Linked DNA regions of Homo sapiens: region 2 is reported to be linked to region 1. The links are microRNA targets in miRTarBase. Many come from high-throughput screens and were not tested one by one. Region 1 holds a microRNA gene; the other region holds the end of a gene's coding sequence.

The links. The annotated mature microRNA hsa-miR-329-3p reads AACACACCUGGUUAACCUCUUU and lies in region 1 at 2,809-2,830, opposite strand. An mRNA with a match to its seed (bases 2 to 7 or 8) in the 3' UTR can be bound and repressed. Matches are read on the target gene's strand: a 7mer-m8 pairs with bases 2 to 8, a 7mer-A1 pairs with bases 2 to 7 and ends in A, and an 8mer does both.
Region 2: the mRNA of SORBS3 is a reported target of hsa-miR-329-3p. Seed matches in the 3' UTR shown: 7mer-m8 at 1,530-1,536 and 7mer-A1 at 1,535-1,541.

Annotation. Positions count from the first base shown.
Region 1 is chr14:101,025,655-101,029,663 of GRCh38, reverse strand. MIR329-1 (microRNA 329-1) reads right to left here and starts at 2,879; the gene lies at 2,800-2,879. LOC124903407 (mucin-2-like) reads right to left here. Exons shown (of 5, transcript XM_047432049.1): 5 at 1-4,009. It overlaps MIR323A (microRNA 323a), which reads right to left and starts at 3,932; the gene lies at 3,847-3,932. It overlaps MIR758 (microRNA 758), which reads right to left and starts at 3,644; the gene lies at 3,557-3,644. It also overlaps MIR329-2 and MIR494.
Region 2 is chr8:22,574,069-22,578,176 of GRCh38, forward strand. SORBS3 (sorbin and SH3 domain containing 3) reads left to right here. Exons shown (of 21, transcript NM_005775.5): 21 at 599-1,720. The coding sequence ends at 660. Among named protein-coding and RNA genes, the nearest start is that of PDLIM2, 4.4 kb to the right of the region's middle. RefSeq lists an enhancer at 260-978 and a silencer at 368-517.

The DNA.
Region 1 (4,009 bases):
ACAACACGGACAACCTCTCCTTCGAGTATCGAAGATTAGCACTGATCAAAAAACAAACAAAAAAAATCAAAACAGAACTGCCGAATCTTCGCCGATGTTGGTGTCACCTCCAGGAAGATTCCCCGAATCTACATGGCACTGGGTAGACCAGACGTCAGATGGCTTCTATTTGCGTGTCCCAGGTTGCTTTTGGGAAGTCAGCCAAAAGCTCTTCAAGCCTTCACAATGAAAAGAGGTTGCCCGGGAAACATTTTCCGCCAATACAGAGAACACTTTAGGTACAACCTCTTTCCAGGTATTGGAGCTTTCCTGACGGTGGAACCAGGGTTTCCTTGTGGAAGTCCAGGCCACGGGAAGTGCCCCTAGTCATAATGGTTTGCATCCCAAAGTCAGTGCGTCAAGAGAGCTCATGAGTAAATCTCGAATTCTGTGGTCAAGAAGCAGGTGGCTGGGTCTGCAGTTAGCCGGTGCCCAGGCCCCTGTGTGGCACTGGCCATGGGTCCAAGCAGCCTTCCAGGCAAGGTGTGATTCCAAAAACAGATACATGGCACCGAGGAAGCTGTAAGCAAAGTGAGTGCCTGCTACACACGGCTAGGGAGGGAGGGTCGGGGAAGCCAGGAGCACCGCCAGGCCACCTTCCTCCAGGTCAAATCCCACTTAATGCCTTCTGCTGCCTTCAATCCAATTCAGCAGAATCAAGAAATAAAAACGAATCTCATTTCCTGATGTGAGCTCCCCAAATGTTTTAGCCAATTCTGGGCCGGATTTTCTGTTTGCTATAAAACTCCTTTGACAATAATTGTTTTCATGGTGGGGGGAGTACTGTTATCTCCAGACTCTTTTGCATCTCAACAGAGAGTTAGATCAATCCTGACAGGGCTGGGGAGAATCAGGGGTCAGAAAACTTCAGGTTTCCTCTTACAAAGTTGTAAAATTGTGCCCTCTTTTCCCCCGAAGGTGGACCCCGGAGCAGAGGTCTGAGAAGAAAATCCCAGGGCCAGGCTGCGGCTCTGCACCCTTGCCACCTGTCCTTTGACCCCTCCGTAGCCAGCAGAGCACCCAATCTACATGGACCCAGCAGCCGCCTACCCTGGATACCCCGGAGGCAACAGCATACTGCCTGCTGTCACATGGCCTTGACACACTCTCTCTGCCCTCTCTTTATGAGGGCTCTTTTCGGCTGGAAGGAACGGTGTTTGGGTATCAGCTAATAGGAAGGATTGGTGGCGGAGGTCATTGGTGCTACCTCATATGTTCTCTCTGGTTATAAAAAGCAGGGTTGACATGGAAATACCTGGCCCTTCTCCAGAACCTGAGGCCCTCCTCCCTCACAGTCCCATCCCCAAATGCCACAGATGAGCCGAGGACCCACAGTCACAGCTAAGTGCCATCAAAACAAATGCAGCACCAGCAAAACCTACTTCTGTGCCTTGGCTTTAGAGCTGGCAGGGAGCCTTTTCCTTCCCCAGAGGCTGGCATCACCTCCAGGAAGTCCTCCTGGAAAGGATCGGGCACCAAGCATTACTGCCAGACAGGACGCTTAGAACAGGGGAAGCACCCATCTCGGCCCACTCACCCTGGCCTGGGCCTGACAACTGTCTTATCCGGAAGCCTTCCAAACTGGTGTTTGATACTGAAGAGTGGTCCACAGAAATGATTTATATAAAAGAAACAGATATGCCAAAGGAAACCTCTCCTTGAGCACCCCAAAGAAGGACCATCTGCAGAAACACAACCCTGAGGGTAGGTCAGATGTGCTGGTCAGTGGAGCAGGTGTGTTCCTGGGGAGGTACATGCCCCGTGGTGGGCCATCCACTCCCTTCCCCTGGATCAGGGCTGGTGACAATGCCCTCCCTTCAAGCTGGCATGACATCAAGGATTCCTCCAGATTTAAAGGAAGTCAACTCCACAATTCCTGTGAGAAATAAACAGGTCTCAACCTGGGCCAATTCCAGGGCCCCCAAGGTCTCCTCTTGACCTCAGAATCAGCTTTTCTTCCCTAAGGTGTCATTATATCCAGGACATCCTTTCAGAATAAACTGCAGGCTAGGGGCAGGCGTGCAGGACACCTGCACTATCTGTCCAGGGCATGCTGGCATTCCCCTGCTGTGGGCTGGGCTCATTCAAGCCCATCACTGAGTGTGGCAAGGACGAGGCATCCCCCTACAGCAGGGTCAGATGCCGAAAGAGCCTGAATTACACACACGATCCGTTGGGAGCACAACGAAGGCAACCACAGACAACTCACCTGCATGTTCCGTGACACTGTCGTGGTGACACTGTCTTCCCCCAGGCTGCCATCACATTGAAAAGTCCTCCTAAGAAGGGATAAGACATTGAGGGTTAGCGCAATCGGTGGCAAAATTCAGAAACATGGGGCACGCTTAGTGATCAGCCATTTGCTCGTGTCTCCTTATTTATGTCCACAGCACCCCTTCCCTGAAGCTGAGGTCTGGACCAGAAGGCCTCCAAGATGGGATTTGATACTGGAAAAGAGGTTAACCAGGTGTGTTTCGTCCTCAATAAAGAAACAGAAACCCAGAAAACCTCTCTTCAGGTACCACCAAGTAACACTGACAAGAACACCACTGATTCCTTCCCCAAACTTGACATTCAGTCCTGGAAGTCCTGTTAAATACGGATTGGACACTGGGGTTAGTAGAACAGATGACATCAGTCAAAATAATACAGCACAGGCTTCGTGGTTAACCATAGATTTCTGTCCAGTGGACTGGAGCTGAGAGTAACGCCCTTCCCTGAAGCTGAGGTCTGGACCAGAAGGCCTCCAAGATGGGATTTGATACTGGAAAAGAGGTTAACCAGGTGTGTTTCGTCCTCATTAAAGAAACAGAAACCCAGAAAACCTCTCTTCAGGTACCACTGATTAACACTGACAAGAACACCACTGATTCTTCCCCAGACTTGACATTCAGTGCTGGAAGTCCTGTTAAATATGGAATTGCACACTGAGCGTTAGTTAGTTGATTTGCCGGAAGAAGCCAAGAGTTGGATGCATGCTGCTTGCCAACCATCTATCCAAGTACCCCAGTGGAGCAGACCCCACATCACGTCTGGAAGTTGACATCACAGCCAGAGGTGGTGATGCCATAAAAAGGCTGGTCACAGCAGCTATCGCGTTTAGGGTTAACCTCCAGGGCCATCTTTTCTCAGTTACTCAAGAGAGGCACAGATGCCCCAAAGCAAGGCTGACTCCACCAAAGGTCCTGCTAAGGACCCAGTGGAGACTGAGGTGTGACGGGCCAGGCGACCTTGGTTGTAAATTAAAGTGCATACACTCAGGTCAGCTGATCACTGGAGGACTTTGGGATGGTATAGACAGCATGCCCCTTCCCTTGAACTTGGATGCCTCCACATCTAGGAAGCCCTCCAAGGAAAGAGATCGGAGTGAAAATCAGTCCAACTCAGCCACATTTGGCATACATGTCGCAAACGCCTCGCAGATGCTCTCTTCAGAGTCTAACAGAGTGCAGCTGGCCCCAGTTTACTGTCTCTTTCCCAAAAAGTTGACACCTCTTCCAGGAAGTTCTCCAAGGGGGCATTAGATACTGAGGGTTAGTGGACCAGGTCACAAACGGCACAAATAAAGCGTGTGCTCTCTGGTCAACCATCTCATGTATCCAGGCACGTGCTGACACCACGCTCCTTGTCCGCAAGTTAACCCTGCTGCCAAGCCAGAGCAGTGTGCTGAGAAGAAGGCTGCCACACGTGAGTTATCGTCACACACAAGACAAACACATCACAAACCCCGCTGGGTCACACTGAGCGCAGACCTAGTGGCCCCCACCCCCGCAGTTGATGTTAGCTCCAGGAAAGCTTGCAAGGCGGGATTAGATACTGCAAAGAGGTCGACCGTGTAATGTGCGCCATAAATAAAGCGAACGCGCCACGGACCACCTCTCTCCAAGTACCAAGCAGCAGCCGTACTGACACCAGGACAGTGGCTCTTCCGCAAAGCTGATATCACCTCCTGGAAGTCTTCCAAGGCGAG
Region 2 (4,108 bases), not on the chromosome of region 1:
GGCGTCCTTCTCTTCATGGCACGAAGGAAAGCAGCCAACAGAAGTGCTGGCTTTGGGGAAGCATCGGGTGCCAGGCCCCCCAGATGCTTTGCCCGCTGGGGTTCCCCCCCCTCCTCCTCTTCAAGACACGAGTTTCTGTGGGGCTGAGAGGCCTGGATCGGAGTCCCAAGCTTACTCCTAAGCGTCGGGGTGCTCTCGGGCAATGCATTCAGCCTTCCCATAGGCCTTCCCACCCATCTCTAAGTGAGGGTGCCCTATTAGACCAGGGACGTTTCTCCCGATTTCAGTTCTGTGATTCCTCCTCCTGTGTCCCCACTTTGCGGAGGAGGGGGGGAGTGACTCTGCTGTGTACAGTGTGATGCACATTTGTTGATTGCTCAGATTCTTTGGTGGTTGAGTGTGGGAAGTGTAGCTTTGCCCATCTAAGCTTCTGCCGCTAGGGGGCAGGAAGGAGGAGAGCAAATCCAATTCCCTCTCTGGGCTCCCCTACAGAACTCCCCTACAGTTCTGGGCACTGCCGGCAGGGGGCAGGCCCTCACCCCTGCATCCCTGTTAAAGAAGGGAGTGGGGAAAGCTCTTCCTGCCTTTCCTCTTTCAGGTGTCTCCCGGAGGACCCAGAAATTCGGAACGTTCCCTGGAAATTACGTTGCCCCGGTGTGAGTGGTCTCCATGGCAACTTGGAGCCAGCCAGGATGGGGTGGGGAGCGGTGGCACTCGTGGGAGGGAGAGGACCCCCGCCCACATCCTCCTTCCCCAGGACCTGAGCTCCCAGCATCTGCAGACGACCCCCGCAGCCTTTCCCTCGGACCCCCCTCGAAGCCCCCTGGACTGATTCCCACCCACGACTCACAGGCATTCCTCCCACAGCCCTTTCATTTCCTCCCCACCCCACTCCCCAAATACAGAGGTCTGCTTTGAAGCGGAGACCATTTCCAGGCCTTATTGAGACCAGACCCCAAGTCCCCCACCCCCATCCTGCTCCAGCGTTTCCTCTAACAGGGACCAGCTCTCCGCTTTGCCCCCACGGGGTTCCTCTAACCAGAACCAGCTTCCTAGCCTCGTAGAGACCAAAGGCCGCCCCCGCCTGCTGGGGTTCCTCCCAGCACCCCAGCTTGCTGGCTGCCCTCTTTGCCTTCTGGCCTCCAGCTGGGTGTGGGGGGGCGGAGCAAGGCGGGGGACAGACGCAGCACCTTCTTAGCGATCTAGGCCTGGCAAGAGCTCTGGCCCCAAGGCCTCCTCTTCCCAGGGGCTGCCAAGTCCTGGCCCTGGCCCTGGCATATCACCCCGCACTGTGGGGCCAGGCACCACTAGCCTGGCTCAAATATTCCCCAGGGAGACTGCTGTGTGCTGCCCGCCTGCCTGCTGGCTCTCCCCCAGCCCCACATCCCCTCTGGAAGAGAATGTAAAATAAACCTGGACACAAGGGACCTTGTCTCTGCGGCCTTTTCCTTGGGGTAGGGGATGCCTCCTCCTGTCTAGGAGATGGGAATTCCTTCTGTGGAGGGCTGTGCTGGGAGACAGGTGGGACAGGTGTGTGTGTAAGAGGAGGAGGATGGAAAAACACCATTATTACCTCCAAAGATCTCTGCCCTTGGGTGTCAGGCAGGTTGCGGCAGCCCCCACAATTGGGCAGCTGTGTGGCAAGAAGTGCTGGGAGAATGAACAGTGCCAGGCCCTGGTAGCAGGGAGACACCAGAGATGGGGGACTGAATGTGGCCTTGTTTGCAGACTGTTTTGATTCTGGAGCTGCCACCGTGGGGTTGCTGGGCTAGATGACATTTCTAACTATTCTGCTGTTTTCCTTCTGTGTGCTCTGTTTCCACACCGAAGCCCTTGTGTGTGTGTGTGTGTGTGTGTGTGTGTGTTTATTCTCCTCTTTGGGCTCAGGCTTTTGAGCAATCCTTTGCGGGAAGCTGGGAGTGGTCAAGCACAGCCAGCCAAAACTCCTCTTGAACAAGGGTGTTTTGTTTGTTTGTTTGTTTTTTGTTGTTTTTTTTCTGTGTGAGATGGGGTCTCATTCTTTCGCCCAGGCTGGAGCGCAGTGGCCCGATCTCGGCTCACTGCAGTCTCTGCCTCCCGGCTTCAAGCAATTTTCCCACCTCAGCCTCCTGAGTAGCTGGGATTACAGGGTTGCGGCACCATGCCCAGCTAATTTTTGTATTTTTAGTAGAGATGGGGTTTCACATGTTGGCCAGGCTGGTCTCGAACTCCTGACCTCAGGTGATCCACCCACCTCGGCCTCCCAAAGTGCTGGGATAACAAGCGTGAGCCACCGCGCCCAACCTTGAACAAGGTTTTATAGTCCTGGAGCTTGCAGGTCCCTGTGGGGTGGCAGTGGTGGCACAGTCCAGGCATGGCCACTCTGCCAAGAAAGGAAGCTCCGTTTCTCGGCTGCTGCTGAGAGGTGAGCAGGGCACCAGGGCCTCTCCGTGTGTTACCTAACATGAGCCTCACGATGGCAGGTCATGATTCCATTTTACAGGGGGAGAGACCCAGCCTCTGAGAAATTAAGTTGTCTAGCTCACATCATTATTAAATGCTGAAGTCAGGTCCACCTCACTTCCTGAAATCTACCAAATGCCCAGGCAGCCCTCGTCCAGGGCCCTCGTCCAGGCCCTTGGAGAAGGAAGGTCATGTGTGAGGTCAGGGACTTCTCTAGGGCGGCCCAGGTTGGGCCGCTTTTATGTTCTTCCTGGCAATCCTGTCTTCTAGGCCTGTCACCTGAGACAGGTGTGAAGAGGTGGTGGCTGGAGTGAAAGGTGGTGGTGCCCAGTTCTGTCAGGACAGAGGGGAGGGGCTCGTGGTTGACAGGGCAGTGGCCTAGCCCTGGCTGGTTTCTTGAACCTGGGTGCGGCCTGACCCAGCAGGGGTTCAACAGCAGCTGGAAGAACGAGTCCTCCATCCACCTCCATCCTCACCCTGGTTTGGTTCTAAATGGGCAGGTCCAGCCCATCCTGGCCTGGAAACAACCATTCCTCAGAACCCACTGGCCTGGTTGCCATTCCCCCATCCCAGCTCTTTTTTCATGAACTCCCTGATTCCCTCATAAAACATATCAGGGCTGAGGCCTCCTCTCCCTGGGACAGAGACCAACTCCATGCCCTCTCTTTGATGGAGCGCTGGCACTTCCCGCAGCTAACAAACCCTCCAACCCTGGGCTGCCTGCACCACGGTCCTGCCTGAAAGATGCTTCTGTGCCTCGACTTGGCCTGATTGGGGAGGTGAAGGGAGGATCAGAGGCTGCTGGAGATGGCTCACCCATGAGAGAGGGGAGGGCAGTGATGTGGCTTACCTAGGGCCACAGAGAGGCTATGAGCAGGACATGTCCCCTTCTGTGCCACAGAGGCGTGCCCTGCCTGGGTTCGCTGACTTGTCTTTGTGGTGGGTTTTGTGAATTCACAACCCACCCATCAGAAAGCCCTGCCAGATGAACCTGGGGCTATTTGTAGAGTCTGTCCAAGGCATGCAGGAGGGGCTCTCTGAGGAAATGATGGGCTTGTGTTTGATTCACTCTCCATTCCCAGAGGCAAGCACGGTGCCTGGCACTCAGTATTCACTGAATGAATGTTATTGGAATGATTGTGTGGAAGAATTGAATGGATGAACTTCCCTTCCTTTGGGTCCCTTCCCAGAAGTCCCCACCCCATTTGAGGCAGGGACTCTGTTTGACACCTCTGTGCCATCCTTGGCTTTTGCTTGTGGCCAAGCAATTTTTACAACAAGACGGTAAGCAGCACATTATCCCCATTTTCCACATGGGGAAACTGAGGCCCGGAGGAGCCGAGGAGGTTGCTGAAGGTCACACAGCCGGTGAGACGCAGCTGTGCACTTGGGGCTAGGTCTGTGTGCCCCCGGGGCTGTGCTCACCCTGCCTGTAGTTGCCTCTCCCCTCAAGGGGCTTCCAGTCTAGTCAGGGAGGCAGAGCAGGTACGTCAGGCCAGGCGGTCATGCCGGGAGGCCGGAGACCAGCCCGTGGGAGAGGAGTTTACACACACCCAGGACGGTCTGTGGGAGGAGGGGGGCCAGAGTGTGAACGCAAGGAGGCTGAGACGCGGGCACAGACAGGTGAGGGGCGTGGGGAGGGCACTCTTCACAGAGTGAGCGTGGA